3 linked regions of the Homo sapiens genome follow. The protein of the gene in region 1 purifies or fractionates together with the protein of each later gene. This does not show direct contact. Each region holds a gene or a part of one and is shown on either strand. Other genes may lie near its edges.

Evidence for each region.
Region 2: the proteins of KLK14 (region 1) and ZC3HC1 purify together in Homo sapiens (co-immunoprecipitation; one large-scale study listed by IntAct). This does not show direct contact.
Region 3: the proteins of KLK14 (region 1) and CNNM4 purify together in Homo sapiens (affinity purification with mass spectrometry; one large-scale study listed by BioGRID and IntAct). This does not show direct contact.

The regions. Positions count from the first base shown.
Region 1 is NC_000019.10:51,080,072-51,084,306, reverse strand, and holds the start of KLK14 (kallikrein-14 preproprotein), read left to right. Parts: upstream 1-1,419; 5' UTR 1,420-1,559; coding exon of another isoform or gene 1,560-1,585; intron 1,586-1,670; coding exon of another isoform or gene 1,671-1,692; coding exon 1,693-1,732; intron 1,733-2,603; coding exon 2,604-2,775; intron 2,776-4,235. UniProt on the Homo sapiens protein: Serine-type endopeptidase with a dual trypsin-like and chymotrypsin-like substrate specificity. May activate/inactivate the proteinase-activated receptors F2R, F2RL1 and F2RL3 and other kallikreins including KLK1, KLK3, KLK5 and KLK11.
Region 2 is NC_000007.14:130,034,264-130,037,909, reverse strand, and holds part of ZC3HC1 (zinc finger C3HC-type protein 1), read left to right. Parts: intron 1-3,646. UniProt on the Homo sapiens protein: Required for proper positioning of a substantial amount of TPR at the nuclear basket (NB) through interaction with TPR.
Region 3 is NC_000002.12:96,763,830-96,767,475, reverse strand, and holds part of CNNM4 (metal transporter CNNM4 precursor), read right to left. Parts: intron 1-3,646. UniProt on the Homo sapiens protein: Probable metal transporter. The interaction with the metal ion chaperone COX11 suggests that it may play a role in sensory neuron functions. May play a role in biomineralization and retinal function.

The sequences.
Region 1 (4,235 bases):
TGTCCCCCTCTCTGGGTCTCTGTCACTCTCTCTTTGCATCTCCAGCTCTCACTTTGTCTCTGCACCTAGCAGATCCCAAGCTGGGGAATGCCAGTTCTGGCACCAACCTTCCTGCTCCCTGCTGGGGCCTCTGCTCCCCCATCTCTCAGGAGTCGAAAGTGAGAAAGCAAGGTGGGCAGCTCTGCTCCAGGTCCAGGTATCTCCCGCCCACCTCCTGCCCGTCCTCTATCCCACCCCTCCTCTCCATCTCTCCCTGGCGCTGCCATCTCTCATCTAGGCCTCCGTCTCCTCTGTCATTGTCCCCATCCCCTGTAGGTGCCCATCCTTCCCGTCTCCCCTCTGCCATCGGCCTGCCTGTCCCATCCTCTTTCTCCCACCATGTCCCGTTCTCTTCCACGTCTCATGCCCGCACTGCCTTCATCATCATCGCTGTTGTTCTGTGTGTGTTTGTGGTGAGTGCCGCATGGTGGGGGCGTCTCGGCCTCTCTCCTCTCTCTCCACTGTTTTCTCTTTCTGTGTGTCTGTTTCCATTCTATCTCCACCTTCTTCCCTCCGTCTTTTGCTTTTCTATCTCCACTTCTCCACACCCCTCTCTCCCTGCGTCTCTGTGTCTCCCTCTTCCTCTGTCTTGTTTTTTTCCCACCGTCTGCCTCTTCTGTTCCCTGTCACATCCAACTTCCACCGGTTTCTCCAGCTCTCTCCTCAGTTCCTTCTCTCATGAGCACACCTGCCTCTGTGCTCGTATTCCTGGACTCCTCTCTCTCCACTGTCATATCTTCTCATTCATTTTCCCAGTCTCTCTCTGTCTCTTGCTCTCCCCCTCTCTGTCACTCTGTCTCTGTCTCTCTCTTTCTCTCTCTCTCTCTGTGTCTCTCTGTCTGGCTCTCTCTCTGTCTCTCTCTCCATCTCTCTCTCTCTCTCCCCCCCGTCACCCTGTCTCTGTCTCTCTCTGTCTGTGTGTCTCTCTGTCTTTCTCTCTCTCCATCTCTCTCTGTCTCTCTCTCTCTCTCTCTCTCTCTCCCTCTCTCCCTCCTCCCGTGACTCCCTCTCTCAGTCCATCTCTTCCTCCCTCTCTCAGCCCCTTCGTGCCCTTTCCTCTGACACTCCCCACCCTGGTTTCCTGACTCCACCACTAGATCCACCACCTCCAGCAACTGGGAACCCTCCCCTGCCCACCCTGCCCTGGGGTCCCCTCCCAGGATTCCTTCTAGATTATAGCATCTTCCCTGGGCGGGTTCTCATGAACAATTGTGGCTGCTTTTTTGGCCAGACAGGGGAGGGAGGGGATGGGATCAGGGAGTCCTGGAATGGGAACTAGGCAATAAAAAAAAAAAAATGTCAGAAGCAGGGCGGCGGGAGGTGGGGGCAGGGCCAGCTGTCCTTACCAGGGATAAAAGGCTTTGCCAGTGTGACTAGGAAGAGAGACACCTCCCCTCCTTCCTTCATCAAGACATCAAGGAGGGACCTGTGCCCTGCTCCACATCCTCCCACCTGCCGCCCGCAGAGCCTGCAGGCCCCGCCCCCCTCGTCTCTGGTCCCTACCTCTCTGCTGTGTCTTCATGTCCCTGAGGGTCTTGGGCTCTGGGTAAGTGCCCCTTGCTGTCTCTGCCTCTCAGCCCCCGGTTCTGTTGAAGGTTCCTTCTCTCTCACTTTTTCTCTGCATTTGACAGGACCTGGCCCTCAGCCCCTAAAATGTTCCTCCTGCTGACAGCACTTCAAGTCCTGGCTATAGGTAAGAGAACGGTTGGGTATGACACAAGGGGGTCCCCTGGAGACTCTGAGAAGAGATGGGGATGGGTCCTTGGGGCCCCTGGATGCTCATGGTGACCTCATAAGAAAGAGCAGGGAGTGGTTTGGGGGTCATGGTGGGGGAACGTGCTGGAGGCCTAAATTCCTAGTTGTGGAGGTGCTAGGGAATTGTGGGGCCGGGGAGAGAGGTGTTTATAAGGTCTGGTGCAAAATACATAAGGAATCTTAGGGAACTATTAGGTCCTGAGTGGGTCATAGCAGAAAGATCACGGGGCTCTACCTGACTGTGTTAGGAAAGAAACAATGTCAGAAAGATGTTTTGTTGTCAGAGGGAAGGTGGAGAAGGATGATGGGATGGCGGGATCGTGGCATGGGGTGGCGGGATCGTGGCATGGGTGTGTGAGGTGGATGGGGGCAAGTGTGGGGCAAGAGATGGCGGATCCTTGGGGTCCCACTGAGTGGGAACGTTGGGGAGGAGACAGGGAGGTCCTTGAATGTGTTGGGGAAGGACTCATTGGGGGGAAATGTGGCATATTTCGAGAAGTGATCACAGAAATTATGGGAGCATAGAGCTAAGGGTCGTAGATGTAGCAAGGCCCTGGATAAGGTGGCCACGGCACAAAATAAGAGATGCTACGGAGGTGACTTGGGAGGTGAGTCAGAAAGCTCTCCGTGCTGGGGCAATAACGGGGTCAATATTGGGCATGTCTCACCCTGGGTGGGACAGATAGAGGCGGGCAGTTTAGGGGTTAGACCAAAAGGAAGGGGATTTGTCAGTTTTGGAATCCTACAAACTTGTGGAGTGGAGAGTGTTTGCTCATCTACTTTCCCCACCCAATCCTGTCCACTCCTAGCCATGACACAGAGCCAAGAGGATGAGAACAAGATAATTGGTGGCCATACGTGCACCCGGAGCTCCCAGCCGTGGCAGGCGGCCCTGCTGGCGGGTCCCAGGCGCCGCTTCCTCTGCGGAGGCGCCCTGCTTTCAGGCCAGTGGGTCATCACTGCTGCTCACTGCGGCCGCCCGTAAGTGACCCCCTCCCCTGTCCCTGTACCTAGTGAATTCCAGAGTCTAAAGCCCTAGAGCTGAGCTGAGAACCTGGATCTCTGTATAGAACCCAATGTAGTGGCTGGCTCCTGGTTTGAGGTCTAGAGAAGAGCCTGGAACAAAAACACAGCTCGGGATGTGGGCTCCTCCATAAATCTCGAACTCAGCATAGGTTCTGAAAGCAGATGGGCAGCTTGGAACCCATGGACCTGCTGAGAACCGAACATCTGATCCAGTGATTCTTCCAGAGGCCACACATTACATCGAGACCAAGCTTAGCCCATTCCAGATTGGTGGCTGAATTCAGGACCCCGTCTACATTCAGAAACTCAGGACACTACGTAGAACTCAGAGCCCAGTTCAGGACCTGCAGTCTAGCCATAAATCCAGAACTAGAACGCTGCTCACAGCTGGAACATACAACTCTAAGAATAGAGGCAAAACCTGGAGGCTGTTTCACACCCAAGGTTTAGTTCAGAGTCTAGTCTATAGCTCCGCTATGAGCAGACTTCAACCCAGTGTTTGAATCCCAGAATGTGGCGGGTGCGGTGGCTCATGCCTATAATCCTAGCACTTTGGGATGCTGAGGCAGGCAGATCACCTGAGGTCAGGAGTTCGAGACCAGCCTGAGCAACATAGAGAAACCCTGTCTCTACTAAAAATGCAAAATTAGCCAGGCATGGTGGCACATGCCTGTAATCCCAGCCACTCGGGAGGCTGAGGCAGGAGAATCACTTGAACCTGGGAGGCGGAGGTTGCAGTGAGTCAAGATCGCACCATTGCACTCCAGGCTAGGCAACAAGAGCGAAACTCCATATCAATCAATCAATCAATAAATCCCAGAATGCAGATCCTAATCAGAAGCCCCATATAAAACCTAGACCCCTCCTAAATTCTAGATCTGAACTTACAACCCAGACCCCAGCCAAGAGGTCAAAATGCCTATAAGCCATATCTATGCCATAAACAGGTCAGTCTAGAACCTAGAGATCAAAGCTCAGGCCAGAGTCTAGAATATAAAGGCCAGAATGCAAACCAGACTCTAGAATCTTGGATCCGGGCCATAACCTAGAGCTCCAACTAGAACCCAGAGCCCAACCTGAGGTCAAGGGCTAGGGCCAGAGTCCAGAACCAAGAGCCCTATAATCCAATATGAAACAGACCTGTAGAGGCTGGGTGCGGTGGCTCACGCCTGTAATCCCAGCACTTTGGGAGGCTGAGGCGGGAGAATCACTTGAACTGGGAGTTGGAGGTCGAGAGTGAGCTGAGATCGTGCCACTGCACTCCAGCCTAGGTGACAGAGCGAGACTCCATCACAAAAAAAAAATAAATAAATAAATCAAGTCATAATCCAGGTTCGATCTAGAATCCTGATCTTAGCATAGAGTCAAAAGTTTAAGATGTCTAGAACTCAGAACCCAGGCTAGAAACAGAATGG
Region 2 (3,646 bases), on another chromosome or scaffold:
GCAGAGCCCTCTGGTGGGGAATCTAAGAGCAAGTATAAAAAAATTCTTTAGACCCATAGTTAAAAAGCAACACTATTCATCTGTATATTTCATGCCTTGACCAGGAATCAGTGCCATGTAGGTATATTTTTTATTTCAGTAGGATGGCAGGCTAATTCCAGGGTCACTGATGGCTAAGAATATTCCATGATTTACCACTAAAAGGAGAAAATAGATTGAAAATAACCAGAGATTCCCCTCTACCTTTGATCAATGAAAGGGTGGTAGAAAAGGGATTATTAAATAAAATTGTTTAAGTGAAGATGATTGTATAATAAGGATTTCCTGCTGTTGAAATAGCTAGGATTTACTAGTTATTTACCTGTATTGTATAACAAAACTTGGTCCTATGAGGATTTGATTCCATCCTTGTCTAGTGCACTCAGTCCAAGTTTGTTTGTTTGTTTGTTTGTTTGTTTTCCTTGAGACGGAGTCTTGCTCTGTCGCCCAGGCTGGAGTGCTGCAATGGCTCAGTCTAGGCTCACTGCAACCTCTGCTTCCTGGGTTCAAGCAATTCTCCTGCCTCAGCCTCCCGAGTAGCTGGGACTACAGGCGCGTGCCACCACACCCAGCTAATTTTTGTATTTTTAGTAGAGACAGGGTTTCACCATGTTGGCCAGGCTGGTCTTGAACTCCTGACGTCAAGTGATCCGCCTGCCTTGGCCTCCAGAATTGCTGGGAGGCCTGTAGGCGTGAGCCCCCGCGCCTGGCCGTCCAAGTTTTTAAGGTCTGCCCAGGGCTCTATTGGTGGTTCCCAACTCTTGTCACCGTACATTTTGCTTTCCTGATCTCATTCATAACTTCAGCTACCACCTCGGAGACCTCTAATTCCTATCCAGACCTCTCTTTTGAGCTTGACTCATATTTTCATCTACCTTCTAAACATTTCCACTTAATATTATAGGTACCTGGAACTCAATGTGTATAAAACTGAACTCTTCATCTTATACCTAAAACTTTCTCCATCTTGGCAAATGGCACTGACGTCCCATCCAGTTGTCCTAGCCAGAAACCTGAAAGTCACTTTAGATGCTCTTCTCTATGGTCACCCACTTTGACCTATCCATTCTACCTCCTACATGGATCTTAGATATAACCTTTCAATTATATGATCCCTTGGTTTGGTTCTTTAACATTCAAAGGACATTTGTGTGGATAAAAGAACACTCAGTTATTTCACTTTATGCTTAAATTTATTAAGCAAAACTAATAATTTTGAAGGTAATTTTTTTCTAACATTTGCCAATAATTATAAGCTAAATTAAATTTCTTTAAACATTTTATTTTATTTTATTTTATTTTTTATTTTGAGATGGAGTCTCACTCTGTCACCCAGGCTAGAGTGCAGTGGCGCGATCTTGGCTCACTGCAACCTCCGCTTCTTGGGTTCAGGCAATTCTCCTGCCTCAGCCTTCCGAGTAGCTGGAATTACAGGTGCCCGCCACCATGCCTGGCTAATTTTTCCCTCCTGAGTTCAAGCGATTCTCCTGCCTCAGCCTCCCAAAGTGTTATTTTTAGTAGTGACGAGGTTTCACCATTTTGGCCAGGCTGTCTTGAACTTCTGTCCTCAGGTGATCCACCTGCCTCTGCCTCCCAAAGTGCTGGGATTACAGGCGTGAGCCACCACTCCCAGCCTTACCTTGACTTTTAAAGCCAACTTTGTTCTTTCTCCAACTTTTCCCTTGGATTGCAAATTCATGCAGAGTCAACAAGTGCACCAAAGAAAATCCCCTGAATTGCGGAAAAAAAAAAAAAAACAGGCATATTACTCTTCAGAAAAATCAAAGCTAGAATGTTTATCTATTAAAATATCTCTCCCACCTAGGCTCAGATCAAATGGCTTCACTGTTGTGGCTCAGAAAGGGGCAGACTCCTTCCTTCCAAATCACCCCATCACAGAACACCCATTGCTAAGTAGCAAGCCAGAGGGTTAGACTGGATGCCCCATAAGAGGAGACTTCAAAGTGTTGAGACCTTCAAGTGTAGCCTGTGGAGGAAAATCTTAATCTGTGGGTGACAAAATAAGTGCTTCAGGACCACTTGCTCCAAATCCACATTCTGCAATACAGTCCAAGAAAAAAGGCAAAGTGGCGAGGCGTGATGGCTCACACCTGTGATTCCAGCAGTCTGGAAGGCCAAGGCGGGAGGACCACAAGGTCAGGAGTTCGAGACCAGCCTAGCCAATGTGGTGAAACCCCATCTCTACTAAAAATACAAAAAAATTAGCCGGGCGTGGTGGCACATGCCTGTAATCCCAGCTACTAGGGGATGTTGAGGCAGGAGAATCGCTTGAACACTGCACCCCAGCCTGGGCGACACAGTGAGACTCCATTAAAAAAAAAAGTGCTGATATATTTGGGGAATGCTGAATAGTTTCACAGGGCTCACTGCAACCTCCGCCTCCCAGGTTCAGGTGCGAAACTACGAGATTTTTTGAAGAAGGAAGCCACTTCACTCGGCTGTTTTTTTTTTTTTTTTTTTGAGACAGTCTCACTCTGTTGCCCAGACTTGAGTGCAGTGGCTTGATCTCAGCTCACCACAAACTCTGCTTCCCAGGCTCAAGCGATTCTTCTGCCTCAGCACCCCCGAGTACCTGGGATTACAGGTGCATGCCGCTACCACCTGGCTAAGTTTTGTATTTTTAGTAGAGACGGGGTTTCACCATATTAGCCAGGCTGGTCTTGAACTGCTGACCTCAAATGATCCACTCTCCTCGGCCTCCCAAAGTGCTATGATTACAAGCGTGAACCACTGTGCCTGGCCTCTAGGCTGAATTTGAAAGACCAGCAACAGTGGGTAAAAGCAAAAGGCCAAAGGATGGTACATTTGGGGAATGCTGTAATAGTTTCACAGGGCTGGCTCACAGTGTCCCTGTGGGGAGAATAGAAGAGAAGACTAAAGTGTAGACAGTGGCCAAACCATGATTTTATTAAATGTATGTGATGAGAAGCTACGAGATTTTTTGAAGGAAGAGATGTTATAGATAACATGAACTAGGGTAGAGTACAAACTGCAAGGGGTAAGTCTTGAGGCAAAGAACTAAACTTAGAAGACATAAAAGGACTTAAAGTAATAACCCCAGCCAGGCATGGAGTCTCATGCCTGTAATCCCAGTGTTTTGCAGGGCCAAGGTGGGAGGATCACTTGCGGCCAGGAGTTTGGGACCAGGCTGGGCACCCTGTCTCTACAAAGAAAAAATTTTTTAAAATTAGCCAGATGTGGTGGCATACCCCTGTCATCCTAAGCTACTCGTGAGGTTGAAGCAGGAGGATCCCTTTAACCCAGGAATTCCAAGTTATAGTGAGCTATAATCATGTCACTGCCTTCCAGCCTGCATGACAGAGCAAGACCCTGTCTCTTTTTTTTTTTTTTTTTTTTTTTTTTTTGAGACGGAGTCTCGCTCTGTCGCCCAGGCTAGAGTGCAGTGGCAGGGTCTCGGCTCACTGCAAGCTCTGCCTCCCGGGTTCACGCCATTCTTCTGCCTCAGCCAACCCAGTAGCTGGGACTACAGGCGCCCGCCACCACACCCGGCTAATTTTTTGTATTTTTAGTAGAGACGGGGTTTCACCGTGTTAGCCAGGATAGTCTCAATCTCCTGACCTCGTGA
Region 3 (3,646 bases), on another chromosome or scaffold:
GAGTGGTGAAGGCAAAACACAAACTGGGGCAGGAGGAGCTGGAGGTGGCTTTGTTCTGAGATTCCAAGGTGGACAAACCCACCCACAACACCCAGTACTGCAAACAGTTCCAGGCGAGGTTTAAGCGGAAGGGCCAAGGTTCAAATCACAGGAGACTCTCAGGCCTGAGGGCTTGTCTCACCAACTCGATGATCTTACTCCTGTGGTCCTGCATCACCTAGCATCACGTCTTGCACGCAGCATGGGGTTCCACAGATATCTGGCACTAACTGCCGTGAGCTGGGAGACAGAAGTGCTGCAAGGCTGTACCCCTGCCTTACTCCTAGGGACACTCGGCCCCTACCTCTGCATCGATGCCCCTAGCCCGTCTCTAAGTGTGTAGGAGCACATTCATGACTCATCTAATGAGGGAAGCTGTGTAAACCCCCAGTGGCCAAAGACCACTTACTGGTGGGGAAACTGAGGCACATGGAGAGGAACCATGCATCACACTCAAGGCCCCAAACTCTACTTCTCAGTCCCTGACATGTCATCCCAGGCACTCCTCCTGTCTGTCCTGTGTGGCTGGAACTCTGAACCCGGTAAGTGCACAACACCCATTTTTCTTTGCACTCATCAGCTCCTCAGAATTCTAACACTATTAAAATGGGAATGATCCTCTGCCAAAACAGACAGGTATTCATTCACTCACTTACTCACTCAGTGCCATGGATGGAGGCCTTACTATGTGCCAAGAGCCATTCTAGGGGCTAGAGATACATTGATGAGCAAAACAAAGAGACCTGCCCTTTGAAACTTATATGCCAGTGGGAGGAGACAGACAGTAGACAACACAGTAAATCAGCAAATTACATAGATGCTAGAGAGCAATGTGTGCTACGAGAAGAGAAGAAATCGGCACAGGGCAGGGGAGATTAGGAAGTTGGGGTGGGATGGTGGGTGCAGTTTTAAACAAGGTGGCAAGAAGGCCCCACTGAGAGGTGACCTGGGAAGACAGTGAGCCATGCTGACTTCTGGAGAAGAATATTCCAGCCCAAGGAAACAACCAGGGCAAAGGCCCCATGGTGGGAGCATCCTGGTGTGTTTAAGAACAGCAAAAAGGGCCAGGCACGGTGGCTCACACCTGTAATCCCAGCACTTTGGGAGGCCGAGGTGGGCAGATCGCTTGAGGTCAGGAGTTCAAGACTAGCCTAGCTAACATGGTGAAACCCCATCTCTACTAAAAATACAAAAATCAGCCAGATGTGGTAGCATGCACCTGTAATCCCTGTTACTTGGGAGGCTGAGGCACAAGAATAGCTTGAACCTGGGAGGTGGAGGTTGCAGTGAGCCGAGATCATGCCAGAGTGAAACTCTGTCTCAAAAAAAAAAAAAAGAAAAGAAAAAAAAAAAGGCCAGGTGTGGTGGCTCACACCTGTAATCCCAGCACTTTGGGAGGCTGAGGTGGGTGGATCACCTGAGGTCAGGAGTTCGCAACCAGCCTGGCCAACATGGTGAAACCCCATCTCTACTAAAAATACAAAAAATAGCCGGGCGTGGTGGCGGGCGCCTGTAATCCCAGCTACTCGGGAGGCTGAGACAGGAGAATCGGAGGTGGAGGTTGCAGTGAGCCGAGATGGTGCCATTGCACTCCAGCCGGGGCAATGAGAGCGAAACTCCGTCTCAAAAAAAAAAAAAAGAAAGAAAGAAAGAAAGAAAAAAAGAACAGCAAAAAGGCCAGTGGGGCTTGCCAGAGAGTCATCCATTGTTCATTCATTTGTCCAACACTTACTGGAGACCCGTCTCTTTACCAAGCACTGAGTGGTGAAAACACTAAGAAGGCATGGCCTCTACCCTCAAGGAGCTTATAATGCTGGAAAGGGGAAAGAAAGAATACAAAGGCCCTAAAAGAGGATTACTTGTGGGGCAGAAGGACTCTGGCAAAGCTAGGCTCAGGACCCTCACCCAACCTGGGGTGGAGGAGGGTCCAGGACAGACCCTCAGAGAGAGATGCTGGGCTAGACAGTTGCCCCAGCTCTGACTCTGGTGCTGTTAACAATGCCAGCTGAAAGGCTGGGCAGGGTGGCTCACACCGGTAATCCCAGCACTTTGGGAGGCCAAGGCGGGTGGATCACCTGAGGTCGGGAGTTCAAGACCAGCCTGACCAACATGGCGAAACCCCGTCTCTACTAAATAAACAAAATTAGCCAGGGGTGGTGGCACATGCCCGTAACCCCAGCTACTCAGGAGGCTGAGGCAGAAGAATCGCTTTAACCCGGGAGGTAGAGGTTGCAGCGAGCCGAGATTGTGCCATTACACTCCAGCCTGGACAACAAGAGCAAAACTCCGTCTCAAAAAAAAAAAACAACAACAAACAAACAAATAAAACAATGCCAGCTGTTCTAACTTTGCTCACTTGTTTCTCTTAGCAAAAAAAAAAAAAAAAAAAAAAAAAAAAAAAAAAAAAAAAAACCATTCCCAACACCAGACTCCTAAACTCTTTTTTTTTTGAAACAGAGTCTTGCTCAGTCGCCCAAGCTGGAGTGCAGTGGTGCGATCTGGGCTCACTGCAACCTCTGCCTCCCGGGTTCAAGCGATTCTCCTGCCTCAGCCTCCTGACTAGCTGGGGCTACAGGCATGTGCCACCACGGCTGGATAATTTTTTGTATTTTTAGTAGAGACGGGGTTTCACCATGTTAGCCAGGATGGTCTCAATCTCCTGACCTCGTGATCTGTCCGCCTCGCCCTCCCAAAGTGCTGGGATTACAGGCATGAGCCACCGCGCCTGGCCAAGAAACTCTTAAATTGCAGATGTACACTAGGTGTGTGCTGTGTCCTGGGTAATCTCAGACTAAGAAGGTGGACGCCAGATTGGAAGGTCTGGAAGAGGCCACGCTGCAGGGAACCCGGTGTGCAATGAGTTAAAACTGGTTTTCCAAGACCTCTGAGAATGGGGAAGTAAGTGATGGCATAAAGCCGCAGGGCCTGTTCATTTGTCGGGGGTGGGTAGAGAGGGGGGACTATCACCATCTCCAGGGCGGCCTGCTGTGCTGGGCAGCCTGTGTGCAGTTCCCTGGGTTTACCAGCACTGCTCCAGGGCTTGGCCTCAGGCTACTGGCCTCTGTTAAGCAGAGTTTCCCGGAGTAAACTGAACCTGGGGACTCTGGCTCAGCAGAGCTCTGCTACGGCCTAAGAGATGCTAGCTCTGTTTTCCCAACTTAATGAAAGGGCACTTGACAAGACAGAGCCCAAAGACAGCCCTCTCAAGACCCAGGAGGCTCCAACCCAAGAGAGCTCAGCCCTGCTGATCAAGACTGGGAGACTGGTCAGACCAATCCATACTGGTTGGATCCAGATTCCAAATGAACTGATGGGAAGGTGCTACTGGGTGTGTCACAAACCATAGTCCCAAACACCACAGAGGCAGTGAGGAGGAAGTTGCCCTGGAGGGTCCTAATCAGGTTCCCAACTAAGCAATAGGAGAAGTCTTCAGGTCCCAAGGCTTAGGGTGGGGGTGGGGCACAGATCCTCACTGCTTTTCTGTCCCAGGCTCGGGTACCTGGGAAAACCTGATTCCTGGGTCTGCACTCCCAAAGCCGCCCCCACCCCCACCCCACCGCAGCCTCTGCCTTCACCACTAGGGGTCTGTCTCTCCAGTCTCTGCAGG